Regions from separate parts of the Homo sapiens genome. Here region 2 is linked to region 1. Evidence: fine-mapped expression QTL. A gene starts in region 1. The other region holds a variant in brackets. All regions are shown on one strand. Distances are between the middles of the regions.

Region 1 (9,758 bases):
ACGTAAGTCTTCCTTAAGTGTTTGCTGAATAAATACATGAAAGCGCACCATTCCCTCTATCCCTTCCTTCACCTTTCCTCCCTCCTTGACCTGACTGTCCTGTACTCATTGTTCCCAGAACAGTCAGTTGCTCTGGGAAGAGCTGTAGCTCTGCTGCTGCCTTCAGGCCTCATGGACTGTGGAAAGTCCCTGGACCTGGCTCTGGTCCTTGCCACTCCCAAAAGAGGCTCTAGTTCCCCAAGGCAGGGCCCAACCTCACTCCAGCGAAACCTCACAGGTCAGCACAGGGCCTGTGTGCACACCTGTCAGGTTGTGTAAGGTGGTACTGGCTCTGCCTGGCCAGCGCCTCCTCAGGCTCACTTTTCTCCTGCCTTTCATAAGAGTCATCCTTGTACCCACAGCCTCCTCTCACCGGGTGTGGTGTTCTCCGTTCTCTGCAGGGCCCTGTGCAAATAAAGGGCTCCAGGACGCTTCCAGGGGCTGCTGGGATGGTTTGTGTTCAGTGCTAAATGCTGTTTCCACTCTGGTTCTCTTCCAAGTGCTCATGACTTAGATCAAGTGACTGTTTAATAAATTAGTTGCTTGGGTAGAATGGAAAATGTTTATCTTTTCTATTTGGAAAATGTAAATGTCCCCAAACCACATAGACTATGTACACAATAACATGTACAACTCAAAAAAAAAATAGCCTAGCAATTTAAAAAAAAAACTATACCTGACCCAGCCAATCCTCTTGGAGCAGCTTTTAAACTATTAGTATAGGAAGTGGGCTTTCATCCCAGCAGCTCCTTATCCAACAGCCTCAGGGAAGACAGCAGCATGCTGTGCCTCCGTGTTCTACTCTGTATGAATGAGCTGTTCAAGTTCTATCATTCAAGGTGACTCTGGCCCTTTGGGAGGCTGCATTCATTTTTCTGCTTGAGTGAATGTAGGTACAATGAAACATGATGTCTCAAGTTAAAAAGCTTCCACTTGGGATGTCAGGCAAAACTTTGTCAAGTGTTCCCTTGATTTCCAACACCACAGTTTTGCTGGCACATGAGGCTGGCAGCAGTGCACATGAATGACACACAGAGTACATGTCTGGATGTGCATTCACAGCAATGCAAAATAGTGCTAGGTATTGTGTACTGAGCACGCAGATGCGCCAGCACCATGCAAGCATTTTAGGGAGTTGCCTTTGCTCTAAATTCATGTGATCCCACAGGGGGGTTCCATCACCATGCCCATTCTACAGGTGGGGAAACCTTGCTGCGGGGCAGCTTAGTAACTCATCCAGGGTCATGACTGATGGGACTAGGATAGCACCGAATACTCTGACCTGAGATTGCTTTTAGCCATAAAGAAACAGACATACAGCTTCTGGTATATTTATGGAAAAGTATATACAAACAGCAAAGTCTGACTAATATTCAAATTGTAGCAATGGTTGATCCCATTCCAAAAAAAAAATAAAGCAATGGTAAAGAGTTTCAGGCACACAGTACTCACTAAGCCTCTGATGAATGTTGACTTGCCCTTGTTTAAAGTGCAAGTCATCAAAGCACACTGAGGACACAGACTGCACCAGTTACAGGGTAAGGTGCTGGTTTTCAGGGAACTCAGGTACCAAAAACTGTGCTGGGTACAACACTGGTTCCAAGTAGTGGAGCTGTGTACTTTCTCTTCGCTGGAATGCATGACACCAGGAGAAAGAAGAGAGGCTTATAAACACACACTGAGTTCTTCCTGTCTCTCTGGGAAGTGAGTGTTTTAAGGTGGGACCCCAAATCAGAAAGGTTGGGTAAACTGCCCATAGTCACACAGCCAGTGAGTTCAACTTCCTTGGGTGTAGAGACATCCTTTTTAACTGTGAAGCTTTCCAGAGCCTGAATGAAAACGTTTAAAATTTAATTTTGAACTTTCGACCTGTCGTTTGCTTTGGCTGTGTAAAAGCCAAAAGATACGACCTGGAGAGAACCCCAACTTATTAGAAGGCTTGAAGATTTCAGACACAGCCAGTTTTCAAATATTCAAAAAAACAAAAACCTTGAAAGATTTAGAAGTCATCTTTAAGACTTCGTTTGTTTAAGGTTTAAGGTTGCTGGCTTTCCACCCCCACAATCCTGGGGTCCCTTGCATAAGGTGGACATGAAAGTCTCTGAAAGTGATCAAGCCTATAAGGAGAAACTGCTAGGCAGTTTTAGGACAGCAGGTTTCCAGTTGCAGCTGATCACTTGGCTGGGAGAAAACAGCTCCACCATCACCAAAGATACCAAAAGGGGAACCGGCAGAAAGGAGTAGAAACCAGTGGCCCTCAAGACCGACCATCAGCATTAGACTCTAGGCCAACCCCCTCCCCCCCGCCCCCACAGTCGTGATCTAAGGGAACAAAATCTAGTCTTCATTTTTATTTTACATTTTTACTTTTTAACTCTTTATTTTTATATATTTAATTTTGAGACAGAGTCTCGCTCTGTCACCCAGGCTGGAGGGCAGTGGCGAGATCTCGGCTCACTGTAACCTCCGCCTCTCGGGTTCAAGCGATTCTTCCATCTCAGACTCCCGAGTAACTGGGATCACAGACAGGCGCCACCGCGCCCGGCTAAGGAAACCAAACCTAGGACCACTGAGTGGCTCTTTCCAGATCAGTTTCATCATGTTTTTTTCCATCACTCCCTTCCAGTCCTTTGTTTCCCGCCCTTTCCAGACGAATCCCTTCTGGTTTCCAAACTCCCGGGGCCGGGGGACTCGGGGAAGGGCACCCGTGCAGATGGGGGACGCCCCGGGGGATCTGGCAGGGAGAGGGCATCTGGGTGGGGGAGGCTTCGGGGAGAGGGCACCGGGCAGTGAGGGGAGGGTCGGAGAGGACGCCGGGCCGGGAGTAGGGTAGGGGGCCGGGGGCCGGGGACGTTACCGATGCCCGTAGTGGACGAGGAACATGGCCAGGAGGATGCAGTTGGGCGCGCTGCGGAGACGCGGGGCGGACTCGCTGGCGTACTGGTAGAGCGGCAGGGCCAGCGAGGGCAGCTCCTGCACCACCCAGGCGGCCCGCGCCGGCACTCGGAGCCTGTGGCTGGGCAGCGCGTGGCGGCCGTACACTGAGTTCGTCTGACGATTGCGCGCGAAGACCGCGCAGCCCACGGCGCACTGCAGGTAGGCGAGCGCGGCCAGCAGGCGCTCCTCCGCCACCCCCGTCGCCGTTGCCATCGCCAGGGCTGGGCAGCGTGCTCCATGCCCCAGAGGCCGCGGCGGGCAACATATAGGGCGGCGGCGCGGGGGCAGGAGGGGCGGCTACCGGAGGGGCGGCTACCGGAGTCCCGCACTGCCGGGACTCTGCAGAAAGGGTTCTCAAGTCAGGCTTCTCCGGGGTAGCCGGGGCTGTGGGTGCGGCCCCGGGGGCGGGGCGAGCACTTGCGCGGGGAGGGACCTGCAAGCGCCCCACCCACGCCGGGGCCGCAGTAACCCCGCGCCGCTCTGCGCACGCGCGGCTTCAGGCTGTCCGCGGAGCTCCTTGAGCCCGCGTGGGAAACCTGGGCGCTTCGCGCGGAGACGCCTTTGTGGCTGCTTCCTGGAGCATTTTTTTCCCCTTAGAGCTGTTCGCTGTTTTCCCTGTCACGCCGCTTTTCTGAAAGACGGGTTGTGCGCTTTGGGCTTATTCCTGGACGGTCCCCAAAGGTCCCCGAAAGGACCAGGCCCGGACACGTGGGGCCTTGGTTTCCGGCCGGAAGTCCCGGGAGGTGTAGGGCTAGAGTTCTGGCCGTGGCGGGCCGGTTTCTGCGTGCTGCGTGCGCGGCCGCGTGGGCTATGGGGCGGCGGTCGCGGGGTCGGCGGCTCCAGCAACAGCAGCGGCCGGAGGACGCGGAGGATGGCGCCGAGGGTGGTGGAAAGCGCGGCGAGGCGGTAGGAGCCGGGACCCGGCGGGCGGGCCAGGGGCTCCTCCTGGGCTTCCCGGACCCCGAGGCCTGCGAGGCGGCGGCGAGGGGGCGGCTCCTTGGGCCTCGGGGTAGACGTCTCTTTCCTTCCTCAGGGCTGGGAAGGAGGCTACCCCGAGATCGTCAAGGAGAACAAGCTGTTCGAGCACTACTACCAGGAGCTCAAGATCGTGCCCGAGGGCGAGTGGGGCCAGTTCATGGACGCTCTCAGGGAGCCGCTCCCGGCCACTTTAAGAATTACTGGTTACAAAAGGTAGGGAGGCAGTGCCTGATTTTTTGGGAGTTGGGGCCAGGATGCTGGAGGTTAAAGGCGACGGTGTTTTCTTCGACAAGTGTTACAGTGCCAGAGAACCGTGGCGTTTCAGCGGTTTGGATTCAGGAAGCATTGAGGTGGGGAGCACAGGGTCCAATGAAATGGTCACGGAGGTATTGCAGGCGCAAGGTTAGAAGACGAAATGAAAATGAGATCTGAGGAAGATTCGGCTCCTGGGGAATCTTCCAGGAGGGAAGCTGAGGGTCTTACCTTTTGGAACGTAAGAGAATTTATAGAGAATGCATAAAACCCCTTGGTTCTCCCCTCCTCCGCGCCCCCCCTCCATCTTTGTAGTTACATCTTTCTAAATGAGTCGCAAGTAAAACTTAACGGTAGGATATGCTTAGGAGAGAAGGAATGCAGTGTTGCTCTTAGGGCTCAAACAGTGTGGATTGCTTAAATTTTGAAGGCATACAGTGTAAAAGTAGTGACTAAAGAATGTTTACTCTCCATGCAAAAGTTGGTTTTAGTTTTAAAACACTTGCAGTCTTAAATTTAAGAAGATACAATGTATTAACTTAGTTTTTTAGATCAGTTTGAAACTTCCTTATTTTTCAATAGCCACGCAAAAGAGATTCTCCATTGCTTAAAGAACAAATATTTTAAGGAATTGGAGGACCTGGAGGTGGACGGTCAGAAAGTTGAAGTTCCACAGCCACTGAGTTGGTAGGTACCACAGTGCTTCATGCCGAATATTTATTTGGGATATTAATCTCTATCACTTGAATTATATTTCTTGGTACTGCATTTGCTGTTAAAGAGCTTGGGTATACTTTGCAAACATCCTAATGTTCTAGTACCTGGTGCTTTTATCAACATTATATTGCTACGCAAGTTTTCATGCGATTTGCGATTTGCAGCTTTATGAGTCACTGATTTCAGCCAGCTCTTCCTAGTACATCCAGCCTCTTCCTTTATGTCACCACTTCCGCCAGCTCCCTTTTACAGCCCTTGTTTTCTCACATCAAAACTGTTGCAGAGTGGCTGCTTTGCCTTCAGAAAAAGGACAGACTTAGCTTGACAACAGTCTCCTGGTAGGTAGTCTCTTAGTGTTTTCCATTACAGACAGGTTACCACTGTCTGCTGTCAGGTTGTCTCCTGGTACTTCGCAGTACAGACTGCACCAGCCAATGTAGCATTTCCGAGTCTCAGCACCCAAGCGTGCTACTACTCTGGGAGCTACCTCTTTCTTGACCTGTCCTGGAGGTGCCTTCTGGGTTACCTATTCCTCATGGCTCGGTTCTAGTCTCAGTTGTATGAAGGTGATCCCTTGTGCTGATAGCATCTTGTAAAGATGCTTGGAGAACTCCGGAGGCGCCAGTCCTTCAGTTAACTTACATAAGTGGGAAAGTCGTTATTATTAACTTTGAGGTATTGAGTTCTCAGAAAAGTAATGCACGAAAAGGTGAATTAAGCCGTTTTTTGTTTGTCTGTTTGTTTGTTTGGAGACGGAGTCTCACTCTGTCGCCCAGGCTGGAGAGCAGTGGCACCATCTTGGCTCACTGCAAGCTCCACCTCCCTGGTTCACGCCATTCTCTTGTCTCAGCCTCCCGAGTAGCTGGGACTACAGGTGCCCGCCACCACGCCCGGCCAATTTTTTTGTATTTTTAGTGGAGACGGGTTTTTACCTTGCTAGCCAGGATGGTCTCATCTCCTGACCTCATGATCCGCCCACCTCGGCCTCCCAAAGTGCTGGGATTACAGGCGTGAGCCACTGCGCCCTGCCAAATTAAGCGTTTTGCATCAACTTTTGAGGTTTTGACTATTCCAGTACGTAGTGTTATCTTTCCTTTTTGGATAACCTTTAGTGTTCGCAAATCAAGGTCAGATTTTCATTAATCATGGGGTACAGATTTGCTTGTTTTTCTTTCATTGGCTATTTGGATTTTCATTGTCCCTATCACAGATAAGCATATACATTCACAATGAATGCTGACTGGCCAAACATTAAGTCAGTATTCAACCAGTATCAAGACCGAATATCACCATCATGGAATGTGTTGCTGGGATATAGGAATAAATATGACCAACATCGTGAAACCCTATCTCTACTAAAAATACAAAAATTAGACAGGCATGGTGGCACACGCCTGTAATCCCAGACACTAGGGAGGCTGAGGCATGAGAATCGCTTGAACCCAGGAGGTGGAGGTTGCAGTAAGCCAAGATCATGCCACTGCACTCCAGCCTGGGCCACAGAGCGAGACCATGTCTCAAAAAGGGAAAAAAGAATAGATATGCCACATCTTAGATTTTTAAAAGCTTGAAGGGTACAGTATAGGAAAATGATACGGGTGCTACGTTGCTGTTAGTGGTCACTAATTGTCCACTGTAGTGAGATCAGTGGAAAAGGTAGATGTTTTTCAGCCTCTAGTTATGGCATTGCTGAGATGAGGTAACCTTCACGAGATCAAGCTTTTCTTCCTCCTGGTAACTAGGTTGTAGACTTTGCTCAAGTCGTTTGGTTTGAAGATTTGATTGACGACACTGATTGTGTTGTACTTGAAGTAGAGGTCTGATACTGTAGTAGTCCATTTTCACACTGTTATAAGGACATACCTGAGTAATGTATAGATAAAGGAAATAGGCTTAATTGACTCACATTTCCACATCGCCGGGGAGGCCTCAGGAAGCTTAAAATCATGGCGGAAGATCTCTCTGCACAGGGTGGCAGGAGAGAGAATGAGTGCTGAGCAAAGGAAGAAGCCCCTAATAAACCATCAGATCTCCCCCTGAGAACGAACTCACTGTTGTGAGAACAACATGAGGGAAACGGCCCGGGGATTTAATTATCTCCACCTCGTCCTGCCCTTGACACGTGGGGAATATTACAATTCAAGGTGAAATTGGGGTGGGAACACAGAGCCAAACCATCTAAAATATTTTAAGAAGACAGGATTACGATTCTCCTCGGGCATGTTTGTATTTTTAGCAGTGATGCATGTATGTGCTGCTTCACACAATCACCTGGAAACATTTGTTTCTAAAACCTTGTGTTTAGAAGCGCAGAGACGGGATAAGAAATGCTTTTAAGATGAAGAAGTTCCTGTCCAGGAGGAACGTTTCAGCATGTGTCTATAGGGAAGAGGTGTGCTCTTAAGGCACCTCCATGTGGGCATTTTCTTCTGCAGGCTCCAACAAACTAGGAGAAACCATACGATGTCAATAAGGCTTGCTAGTTTTTTATTATTCTCTGCAAACTACAGTTACACTTGGATTTGATCAGCCCTTTTAACATTTCATAGCTGCTTTTCCACCTTGTTTAACAATGTGTCTGGGTATATGACAAGGTAATTACCAAACTCTTAGAATCTGCAGGTTGTCTGTAGTTGAAGAATGAAGGTGAATTGCTCTCTGCCAACAGCCAGCTATGTTTTTGTTTGCTTTAATTTTCTGAACACACAGCTGAAGGGTATGAACAAAACATTGTAGATCTGGGTTTCTAATATTTGGCTTTTTCCATTATCAATGATGGTTTCTCTATATTTTATTTTGAGACAGGGTCTCACTCTGTCACCCAGGCTGGAGTGCAGTGATGTCATGACGGTTCACTGCAGCCTTGACCTCCTAGGCTCAAGTGATCCTCCCACCTCAGCCTCCTGAGTAGCTCGGACTACAGGTGCATGCCACCACGCCTGGCTAATTTTTTTTATTTTTTTGTAGAGATGGAGTTTCACCTTGTTGCCCAGGCTGGTCTTGCATTCCAGGGCTCAAGCAATCTTCCTGCCTTGGTTTCCCAAAGTGCTGGGATTACAGACATGAGCCACCATTCCTGGCCAATGCCAGTTTCTTGGCAGCTGTATTCTCTAAACATTTATTTATTCAAATTCATCTGTCAGTTTTAGGGTACTAAATCTCTCAGCAAGCAAGTAAAGCAGAAGCTTTCCAGGACTTCTGGTAATTTTCTGTATTGCTCAAGATGCAGGAATAGATCATGTAATATTCTTCCCAATCCTCTGGTACATAGTGAAATATAATTTAGGAAAACGTTTTTTGAAATTACATTTTCTAGAAGGAAAGTTATGTATAGGACCATAGCTTGGGCCAGTTTCATTTTTTTCTTACTTTCCATAGACTCAGAACAATGAGAAATTATCCTAAAGCATTCTTATAGAAGCATTGTTTTGACAACCAATTGTTCAGAGTGCACCTTATTATCATTCTATTTATGTGCTGTTTACTTATATTTTTTTTTGAGACAAGGTCTCTGTTGCCCAGGTTGGAGTGCAGTGGCATGATCTCAGCTCACTGCAACCTCCACCTCCTGGGCTCAGGTGATCCTCCCACCTCAGCGTCCCAGGTAGCTGGGATTACATGCCCCCATCACCATACCCAGCTATTTTTTCTATTTTTTGTACAGTTGGGGTTTTGCCATGTTGGACAGGCTAGTCTTGAACTCCTGACCTCAAGTGATCCGCCCACCTTGGTCTCCCAAAGTGCTGGTGTTACAGGCATGAGCCACTGCACCTCGCCTGTTACGTGCTTTTTAATGTCTAGATTGAGGATGGTTTGTCATAGATGTTGTATATATTTACAGAGTCCTTACCACTTGAGAATTTTTAATATGCAAAGATGACAGTGGTCCTTTTAACTTATCCTCTAAAAAGCCCAAATAGGATTTTTTCTTAAAAGACACAAGCTAAATTTGAAGTAAGTAACTAAAAATTAAATATACCTCTCATTTTGTTTGATGTTAAAATCTACAAAGATTTAATAAACATTTTTTGGTTCATAAAAAGATGATGCTGTTCCTAAAGCTGTATAAGAAACATAATTTAAAAACATTTCTTGTAGAAACAGGGCCTCGCTTTGTTGCCCAGGCTGTTCTCTGTACCCAGAGGAAATAAACATTTATCTGTTAGTTTCTGTTTGTATTTAAATATTTCAGAGTTCCTAAATGTTTCTTTACATGAGATCAACAGCCTTCACAATTATAAATACTGTAGAATTTTAATCTTGTAATAGTACGTTTACATTTTGACTATCAGAAATTTGACGAAAAAGACATATAAGGCTATATTTGTTCAAAGTATATCTAGACTGCTTATCTATATTTGAAAATGAAAATTCAGCTCTTTACAATAAGTCTAAATGGCATGTGGTGTTCATATTGATGTCTTAGTGATTTGGTAAGGCAATAACTTACATGATCGTACTAGCTTTGAGACAGACAAGTTCAGGAAGACCAGATACTATATGAGCTGGCATTTGGCTGTTTGCAAGTAGAGGTTACAGTGGCACAGCAGATATTTGCCCAATACTATAGCAAATGCCAAATTTGCATGTAACCTACTATTTCGCCTCTAATGAGTCCAAAAGATTATTTAAAACAATTCTTTTTAAAATTGCCTTATGAATATGATTTTCTTTTGGCTTTATATTTTTGAACACATTAAATGTCGAGGAGGGAACTGGGCTATATGAGATAGAATCAAAGCGCTGGGGACCTTTGGAGGGTGGCCGTGGACAGATTCAGCCAGTTTCGTCTTCATTATTTGGTAGAAAATGCTTTTCAGGTATATTTTGTAATA
Region 2 (9,815 bases), 32 kb after region 1:
CCCACCTGTAGCGCTGGCTGTGGGTCCCTGAGCCTGCCCTTTGATTTCAGAGCTGTTGACTGACACAGGGCTGAATGGTTCCTGCCAGAGTCCTGAATCTGGTGGCCTGTGTCTTTTCTGTGCCCCATTCCCGCAGGGGGGTGAGCCATGGTGTAGTTCTCACAGCTCGCCCTCCTGGGCAGAGAAGGTACTAAAGGTGTAGAGGCTGCGAGTACTGCTGCCCCGACCCTTGGGATTTGTCCTTTGAGGTACTTCCCTTAGAATTTGGCCATTTGGGGGCCCTTCTTTCATTTGCTTTACTGTCCTCCAAACGACGTAATCACAAGTTGTGAGTATCAGTTCGTTCTTAACCGGGGTTTCTCGGTGGGTTTCTGCTTCTCCTCTCCTTTCCCATTCCGTGACGGTTGCTCCATGTGGCCCGGCATCCTTACAGGAGATGGTCCTGTCTTCATCTCTCTGTGTTTCATCTTATTTTTTTACTTACAGGTTATTAACACGGGGATCAAAGTCTGGTGTAGAAATAACAGCGGTGAAGAGTTTGACTGTGCTTTCCGGCTGGCACAGGAGGTAATTTTGGAAGTGGATTTGAACAGCAGTAGCCACAGATGACTGAAGCAGTCGGGAGTAGATGGGCTTGCTGGTCAGCCAGATGGTCTGAGTGGCTCAGGGCTTGGCTGGCACCTACCAGCCACTTGACCCTCACAGGTTATAGAGCTCTCCCAGAGTGCTGGTTTCCCCTCCTAGGGGGGGGTGGGTTCCACACCTGTCCAAGGGGAGGGGCCATAGTGAGGGCTCGACCACCATAGCCGCTAAGAGCATAGCCCCTGAGAGCAGGCTGTTGTCGTTCATGAATGACATCATGGTATCTGTTCTCTCATTCTCTTTATTCACACAGGGAATATATACATTGTATCCATTTATTAACTCAAGAATTATTACTGTATCAATGGAAGATGTTAAGATACTGTTGACCCAGGAAAATCCCTTTTTTAGAAAACTCAGCAGTGAGACCTACAGTCAAGCAAAGGACCTGGGTGAGTAGTTGGAAATGCATAGAGACATAACTTGTATTCCCTTTATAAGGCCAGCAAAAATGCAGGTGGTGTGCGTTGGGGCATATTTATCAATCATAGTTTTCAGTTTATTTATGGCTACATCAATTTCCAGAGGGTTCTGTAGATCCCTGATTGACAGTTCAGAATGCTAAGGGTCAAAGGCATCTTGGGGTTGGTGTACTTCCCCAGGCTCTGGTGGTGCCCTGCTGCTGCCCAGCAGCCTGTGGTGTGTCTGTGTGGCGTGCAGGGCTGGCCTTTGCTCACCTTGCTGGGCCAGAGAGTCCGGGGAGAGGAGGGGTCAGCCTGTGAGCAGCCCTGGCAAGCCTCCCAGCCAGAGCTCTTGACCCACTTGCCTGTCAGCAGGTCGGGGGTGGGTGGAAGCAGGTCTCTGTGCATGAGCAAATTTGTTTTTTTCTTTTTTTGTTTTGAGACAGAGTCTCGCTCTGTCACCCAGGCTGGAGTACAGTGGCACGATCTCGGCTCACTGCAAGCTCCGCCTCCCAGGTTCAGCCATTCTCCTGCCCCAGCCTCCCAAGTAGCTGGGACTACAAGCACCCGCCACCACGCCCAGCTAATTTTTTGTATTTTTAGTAGAGACGGGGTTTCACCGTGTTAGCCAGGATGGTCTCAATCTCCTGACCTTGTGATCTGCCTGTCTCAGCCTCCCAAAGTGCTGGGATTACAGGCGTGGGCCACCGCGCCCAGCCAGTAAATTTGTTTTTTAAGGTACACAGCCTCACGAGACTGGCTAACATGCAGATTTTAATCACCTGTGTTAGAGCAAAATAAGAGTCTTGCCAGCAGTTCTGACTTTTCTGCTAGCCAGCTGGAGTAGATTATTGGTCATATTGCTGCTTTTATATTTCATCAACTTCCACTTCAGATCACTCCAGTGACGTTTTCCCCTAAGCATAAAAATCATTTCTCCAAGCTGTTCTAATTTTCTTTCTGTTGTCTTCATTCTTGTTTATTTTTTTAAATAACTTGCTGTTTAATATTTTTGGCTCAATTTGATCAAAAGTACGTGAATCACTTCTTGCAGTTACGTTTCTTACTTGCGTTTAAAACTTACTCGTGTGGTTCCTTTGGGATATAAAACATGCTCTGTGGAGTCTGTCTCCCACTGCCGTCTCCAGGCAAGAACCACAATTTAAAGTAGAGATTCTTGTAAAGGATAAAGGACCTGTTTATACTGGTTTTCTTTTAATCCTGCACTTAGATGATTGCAGTATTGTTTTAGACAATTTTTATGTATTTCATGCCATTCTGGGAGTTGGTGTTATAGTTTATTTAATTTTGAATTTTGAAGAATTAACCAGCAGTTAATCCCCAGCCTCCTTGCTTCTCAGAGTGGATTGTCAGGTGACATCCCTTGAAGTCCCTGAATGGCTTTTGCCTGGGTCCTCTTCCAGATCGTCCCTACTGCGTCATTTGGACTTGGTTCATGTATCCAGACGGCCTCTTTTCACCATCTAGATCCTTGAAGCCAAGAATGTAGATTATTTGTTGTTTTCTTTCTTCAGAATACTTAACACATCACTAGGTGCAGAAATGTGCTCAGCGCATGCATCCACTACCTGGAAAACCTGGCAAATGTGTGTCTGTTTCTTTTCCAGCAAAGGGAAGCATCGTGCTGAAGTATGAACCAGATTCTGCGTAAGTCAGTACACGCCCTGCCCTTAGACACACACGCCTTGTCATTAGCTACAGTGTTCTCGTTGGTGAGGAAAGTGACTTGGGAAGGTGGGAACCTTCTTCAGGCCTTTTGTGATTGTTCCTCAGAAGTAGCCTTGTGAAAACTTCAGAACCAAAATATTCCTGTAGGTCATCATGAAGATGCTGTTTCATAGAACACTCAGCTCAGGCTAAGTGAATTTTTACTTACAGAGAATAAAATGCATAGTACTTATTTTTTAAGCATTAGAAACCAATGAAAATTTCTGTCTTGTACAGAGTAAGTGTGAAGATTGGACAGTTGAGTGAGGTTCCGTTCTTTTGTCCTCATGGCTGGTTCAGCCATGTGTGTTGCTGACATGTTACTGCATCAGGAGTGCTAGGGCCGGAGCATGGGATTTGCTCACGCTTGCACTCACGGTCCCCACGGGACCACTGCTCCACGCTGCTTGCATGTATTCACGCTGCATCCTTGTGGGGGGCCTTGGGGGAGCAGGTGCTGGTTTTGGCAGCACTTGCCAGAGGAGGAAGCCGGGACAGAAAGTTAGGTGGCTTGCCCAGAGCTCCTCAGCTCACGAGTGGCAGAATTCGGATCTCACCTGCAACAGCTCCGTCTTGGTGACATGCAACACCATTTCTGAGAGGAGGAAACAGAATGGGGTCCACGGCTGACTGGGATTTGGGGGAGTGAATAGGTAGAACCACTGTACAGATTTCTTTGGGAAGTTAGTGTTGGACCAGGGATCCAGTGCTAACTTGAAGGAACCACCAAAGCGCAGATCCTGAGGCAGGTGCAAGCTGGGGGTCGGGGCGGGCCCAGCCAAGTAGGGAAGGAGGAGGGATAGGTAAGAGGTTGGCAGGGAGGCCGAGGGGCCACATGTCCTCAGGGTTCAGGCTGTCCGGCTGCCATGTGGAGAGAGGACAGGTGGGGGCTGAGGTGGGAGGGGCAGGAACTTGGTGAGGGAACAACAGATGGATGGGCTGGAGAGGTCAGCGAGGCCGAGCGCATGAGCACCCTGGGGACCTGCTGGAGGCGGATGGTGTCTGGATGGTGAACGGGCAGGAGCATCTAGTGATTGATGGCTTCTGGGTGTTTTTAACGAGAGTTTGAACAAAGACTCAGAAATGGTTTTTAAAATAACAGTCCCATGTGGCCCACATAGAAAATATTGGGATATTTTAAGGTGTGGATTCACTTTTCCATATTTAAACACTTGTTTCTACTTGGTGAAATACACAGGTGACAGGTCAACTTCAGGAATAATGGTTTTTTTTTTTTAAGAAGATGGGAGTTGGGAATTTCTTATATTTTCCTCTCACTTCTTAAAACCACCTTTGTGCCCCTGCTTTACATTAGGAAAAATGGAAAGGTGATTAAACACGGCCGTTAGGAGCCTAAAATCTAGGTCAGAGTCCCGTATGAAAGAAATCAGATAAGTTGAGAGAGGGCGTGTGCAGGTTGGAAATGGTGGCGTCCATCTCTGCTGGGGCGTCGATGCCTCCTGGCTGGACAGGTGGAGCCTGGAAGGTAGGGAGGCTCGGAGCATGTTCAGAGAGGCAGGGATGTTTTTGACTGTGGGTAACACTGCATGCTGGGAACGGAAATGAGCACTGTGTGCCCAGCAGGGCTCAGACTGCCATGTGGGGTCCCTGGAGAAGAAATCACGCTAACACTGAGTATCAAAAGGATGAGTGGTCCTGGGTTCTGCTCTGGCAGCCCTGCTAAGGGCAGAGTCTCCCGGTGGTCCTGGGTCCTGCTCTGACGCCCTGCTAAGGGCAGAGTCTCCCAGCCTCTCAGGAGCTTCAGTCCACTTAGGAAACTTGAGGTGAGCTGCAGGGAGCCTGTGGAGAAACGCTTCTCATTTAGTGGGGTGAGGTGACACGGGGTGGCGGGGACAGTAAGTTAAGTTTGAGAAGGAAGTATGTAGAAAGTGTATGTGAAATCTGTAGATTTGGGGCCTCTACTCCATTGTGAACTTAAAGAGGCAGGGCGAAAGCGAGGGTGAGAATTTTACTCAGGACATGAAGAAGGAAGTCCTTTGAGAAAACCTACCCCTCGGATCCAGATGAAATGTCCTCCCAGTAGTTTTGGGGGTTTTGTGGGTATGGGTTTTCTGTGGTTTTCTTTTTTAAGCAGTTGCATATTACATCTCATTCGATTTAGTTATGGGAATGTTTAATGTTCTACATGAAGCCACTTTCACTTGTAGGAATCCAGACGCTCTGCAGTGTCCCATCGTCTTATGCGGATGGCGGGGAAAGGCCTCCATTCGAACTTTTGTGCCCAAGAATGAACGGCTTCATTATCTCAGGATGATGGGGCTGGAGGTATTGGGAGAAAAGAAGAAGGAAGGGGTTATCCTCACAAATGAGAGTGCAGCCAGCACCGGACAGCCAGACAATGACGTGACTGAGGGACAGAGAGCAGGAGAGCCCAACAGCCCAGATGCAGAAGAGGCCAACAGTCCAGACGTGACAGCAGGCTGTGACCCGGCGGGGGTCCATCCACCCC[G/A]GTGAGCAGGCCCAAGGCAGCGGGGGCCCACACCCCTCACACGCAAAACTGGCTTCTTCTGGTCACTGGTGTCTGAAACCAAATCCAGAGCAGCCTGTGGCCTGTAAAGCATATATTTCTAATGACTGCAGACTGGTGGGATCATAGGAGCCTTCTGAATGACCAGGACTGCTTTCTTTGGAGCTGATGAAAATGTACTCTTTTAGCGTGTTAGAAATCACTTGTTTTATTTTGTTTCTTTGGCCAAGCTGGGTCTAGTGTTTCTTTTGCTGGGAATAGACTTTCAAAAGTTGTACTTCTATCAAGAAACAAAACTGCCCTTGCAGAAATTTCAGGTCTTTTGTTAAGCCTGTATTGGTCTTAAGGTGCAGTATTTTTTAAATTATTATTTATAGAAAGAATCTATAAATTCTTGGGGAAGTGTGTTATAAGCTTTAATAATTACATTGAGCTGCACCTCAGTGGTGTGTCATTAACATGCAGTGGGGTTAATATCTGAGGCCTCAGATGACTTTGTGCCTTTTGGAATAAAGGGTAAAATAAACTCTCCCAGAGTAAGAGCTGTATCGTGAATTGTCATACTAATTATTGAGGGGGACTTATGTGCTTTTATTGAATGGAGTGCTTTACAATTTTTATTTTTAAATGGGGTTGGGATCCTTGGAATATTTCAATAAAATTGATAAAATATATACATGTGTGATTCCTGTTTTTGCTCTTAGGAAGCAGAAAGAACAAACTTACTTTTGGCTAAATGGCAGTGTTAGAATACATCCTTATTTTCTCTAGTGAAAGCGGTTTTACTGTGAAGGCTGCTGTCTTCCTGTCTACCTCATTTTGTGTGTTGGTCTGTACAAACACCGACCACACACTGCCTTTGGTGGATTTGTCTCTGGAGTCTCCACTGTGGAATACTTTCAAGCTCTGTGGCGTGAAGAGCTCCTATTTCTCTTTCGCCCACATTCTCCACTGAACATTTCTCTACATTTGCATTTGCATCCTCTGGTGTGCTTGCATGTCACTCATTGTTTTCTGAACCCTTTGACAGTAAGTTACAGACGTGTTCCGTTACCCCCTTGCTCCTGTGGTGTTTCCTGGAAACAGAGGCCCTCTTTACAGCTCGCAGCATAGGCGTCAGAAACGTGGATGCAGGTCACCCTCAAACCAGCAAGCTCGCTCCAGCGGCCCAGTAATGTCCTTTGCAGTCACAATGTCCAATTTTGTCTGGGGTGACACCAGTTGCCTTTGGCTGTCTTGTCTCGAGTTCACTACCGTCAGAAACAGTTCCCAGTCTGTCTTTTATGATTGAGACAGTCTTGCAGGGTACCGGTCAGGTAGTCTGAATGTGCTTCAGTTTTGGTTGGTCTGAAGTGTCCCTGTGATGTGTGCGTTTTTGACAGGAGGACCACAGAGGTGGTGCTGTGTTCTCGCTGCGTCATGCCAGGAGGCTGACGATGTTGGGTTTTCTCTTTATAGTGGTGGTGAAGTTTGTTTTATTATTAGTAACATGGTATCTGTCTGCCAAGTTTCTCCACTGAAAAATTTGTAAGTATTGTGCAAGGAGACATTTCAAGACTATATTCCTCTCTCTCATCAAACTTTTAACTGCCAGCTTTAGTATTTCTTGATAATTTGCCTGAGCCAGTTTTTACTGTGACAGCTACAAATTGTTTTCCCCCATTTTTCATCACTTCTACATTATTAGTTCTCATTACATAGAATAAGCACTCCTCTGTCCTTTGTTTGCTTCTTGATTCATTTTCTGTCAGTACGGATTCAAGGATTCTGTTTTATTCAGTTATTTATTTATTATTACTGTCATTTATTTTGGTTCTCAGATTGTCCCGGCATTGGCCAGTGGGAACTGTTTCCAGTCAGTTTCAGTGCTTTATCCTACTTGCTGGTCCAGGCCCTGGACTGGGGACACCGGGCACGGTGGGGACCTGGGGGCCACACAGGTGTGTGGGGATGGGTTTAGTGCTCTCAGCATCTTTCTCCTCCCTCAGCCCCCAGAACTTTTAGGGCAGTGAGATCTTGGTCTACAGAAGGGGATTGTTGAAAGATGCTTCTCTGGGGAAACTGTCTAGCTTCAAAGAAGCCGTAAAGATAGCGGCCTTAGGGTTCCTGGGAAGTAGCCCACTCTTATCACCCTGTAGCGACGCTCAAAGCGAGGAGTCACTCCCACACTCAGCACTGCCTGTGAGCACCTTGCCTTGTCAGAATAGGCAACCCCGGGTAACCAGACACAGAGCAGCCTCCAGTGTTGGATGGATGTAGGGGTCAAAGACAACAGAATAGCAGCTAGCAAGTACAGACCACACAGGGAGAAGAAAACTTAAAAATTGATAAATAAGGTGGACAGTTATTATGGTGTATGGATAAGCCTGAGGAAACATTCAAGAGAAGACTGCTCCTAACATGGAGGATTTTCTTTCTCTAACTTTAATCAGCATTTTGGTAAGGGTCTTCCGATTCCCGAAGAGTGCACGGCAGAAGAAAAGACATCAGCTGAAGGAGTTTTCGCTTCCACCCAGCAGGGTTGTCTCTGATGAGGGCCTCTCTGAAGTAGCCAGCCCCATAGGTTGGGAGTAGTGGTTGCCTTCTGGTGGGGGTGCTTAAATGGGAGAAAAACTTTTTACTGAAAACTCTTTGTTTCCTTTGAACTTTGACGTACCTGTTGAGTAGATGAATAAAATAAATTTCCTAAAAAGAAGGACAACTTTGAGCCAGCGAGTCCACTTCACAGGCCCACAGATGAGTCAAATGTGTCTGCAGAGTCATTTGATGCAATGTTGTTAATAGCAGAAACCTGGAAGCCCTCAGCATCAATGACGAGGCACTGGGACACCAATGGTGCAGAGCCCCCACGTGGACACTGGCCAGCAAAGGGGCTGAAGCAGCTCGCTGTGTCCTGGAGTCCAGTGACCACCAAGAAAGAAACGCAAGGTGTAGAGAAGAATGTGCATTCTGCTGCCATTGTGTACAGGGGGAAAATACACAGGCTTGGAGACATGTGCTTTTGAATTTATGTAAAGTAACTGGAAGGATACAGAAGAAATTGACAGTTTTGGTTGCCTCTGAGGAGGGCATCTATGTGGGCTGGCCAGTGTTAACAAGGAGATTTTAAATACAGATGCTCTTCAGCTTACGATGGGATTATGTCTTGATAAGCCCAGCATTAGTTGAAAATGTCCTACATCAAAGTGCATTAAGTACACCTAGACTACCTTCAGCATGCTCAGAACACTTCCATGCTACAGTTGGGAAAATCATCTGGCAACACAGTCCCCTGCAGAGGGTTGGTTGTTTACCCTTGTGATCGTATGGCTGTTGGAGCAACTCGGCCATTGCCCCACATCACAAGGATATCGACTACAGATCACCAGCCCAGGTAGAGATCAAAATCCAAAGTACAGTTTCTATTGAATATGTGTTGCTTTCCTACCATCATAAAGCCAAAAAATCATGCGTTGAGAATTGTAAGTCAGGGGCCCTCTCTATTAAAACATGGTAATCTTAGCTCTATTCAGTTAACAAGTGAGTAGTGAATAAGTGCTGCGAAAGAGATATCTGTATCTCTGTGAGCCCAGAGGACAAAATTATTAATGGGCATCCGCAAGTCTGGGATTGTGTATACACGCGCTTCACCCTAGCAAATGGCACTCCATTCCCAGAGCACTTCTCAGGAAGTGGGTTTGGGACGTCTCTGTTCTCGCTCACTTCAACGAATGCTGCACAGCCTGGGGTGGAGGGTGAGGGGCTTGACTCCTGGCTCTGCCGCGGTGGCCTGTGTGCCTCCACAACAGCCCCTTTGACCCCCGCCTCTGGGGTTCATGTCCTGGTGCATTCTCCTGTGTGTGTGGGCTGCACCTTGTGACTTGCTTCTGATGTATAGAATGACGATGGGGCAAAACTTCCAATGAGATTATACAGAAGACTCTGACTTCCATCTTGTTGGTGATACTCTTGTGCTGTGTCGGGGTTCCCAAGACCCACCCGTGGGTTTGGTGAAGACTCCCAGGACTCAGCACCTAGTCCTACTCTGCTATGATGTATTACACAAAAGGCTTGTGACTGCAGCAAAGGGAAAGGCACATGGGGTAACATCTAGAAAAAAACAGGTGCAGGCTTCCGAGAGTCCTCTCCCAGAGGAATCAAACAGGACAGACTTGATTGACCCAGTGAGTTGTGATTACACATGCAAAGTGTTGTCTTTCAGGGAAGCTCATTAAAGACTCAGTGCTCAGGGAGCTTACAGGGGTCATGTGGGCACCTGTCTGGCACCTCCAACATTCCAGACTCCCGCAGGGAAAGCAGGCACTCAGTGTATTGTTTGCATAAACAGTTTAGGCACATTGAACCACTCTTACCCGTTGGGATGTTGGGAACACTCCCAAAATCCAGGTTCCCAGAGGCCAACTAAGGGCCAGTCTTGCATTCAGGCCTTTTTAGGGAGAGTGGCCTTGGGCCTGCTGGGTAAAGTCCTCACACCTGCCTTACTGCAATGAATTAAGTGCAGCATTGGAAAAGCAAGGAACTGAGGCCCTTAGTCCAGCAACTGCCTTGGACCCTAA

What was found. PIP is the estimated chance that this variant, and not a neighbour inherited with it, causes the effect.
Region 2: its variant is fine-mapped to the expression of NSUN2 in whole blood (INTERVAL, PIP above 0.99).

The regions. Positions count from the first base shown.
Region 1 is chr5:6,627,008-6,636,765 of GRCh38, reverse strand. NSUN2 (NOP2/Sun RNA methyltransferase 2) reads left to right here and starts at 3,722. Exons shown (of 19, transcript NM_017755.6): 1 at 3,722-3,882; 2 at 4,010-4,167; 3 at 4,789-4,893. The coding sequence starts at 3,787. It overlaps SRD5A1 (steroid 5 alpha-reductase 1), which reads right to left and starts at 3,326. Exons shown (of 5, transcript NM_001047.4): 1 at 2,897-3,326. The coding sequence starts at 3,189. RefSeq lists enhancers at 2,603-3,114, 3,115-3,626 and a silencer at 3,090-3,479.
Region 2 is chr5:6,595,357-6,605,171 of GRCh38, reverse strand. NSUN2 (NOP2/Sun RNA methyltransferase 2) reads left to right here. Exons shown (of 19, transcript NM_017755.6): 16 at 487-567; 17 at 896-1,034; 18 at 2,672-2,711; 19 at 4,940-5,933. The coding sequence ends at 5,246. Among named protein-coding and RNA genes, the nearest start is that of LINC01018, 18 kb to the right of the region's middle. The variant G/A (reference allele first, on the strand shown) is at 5,242.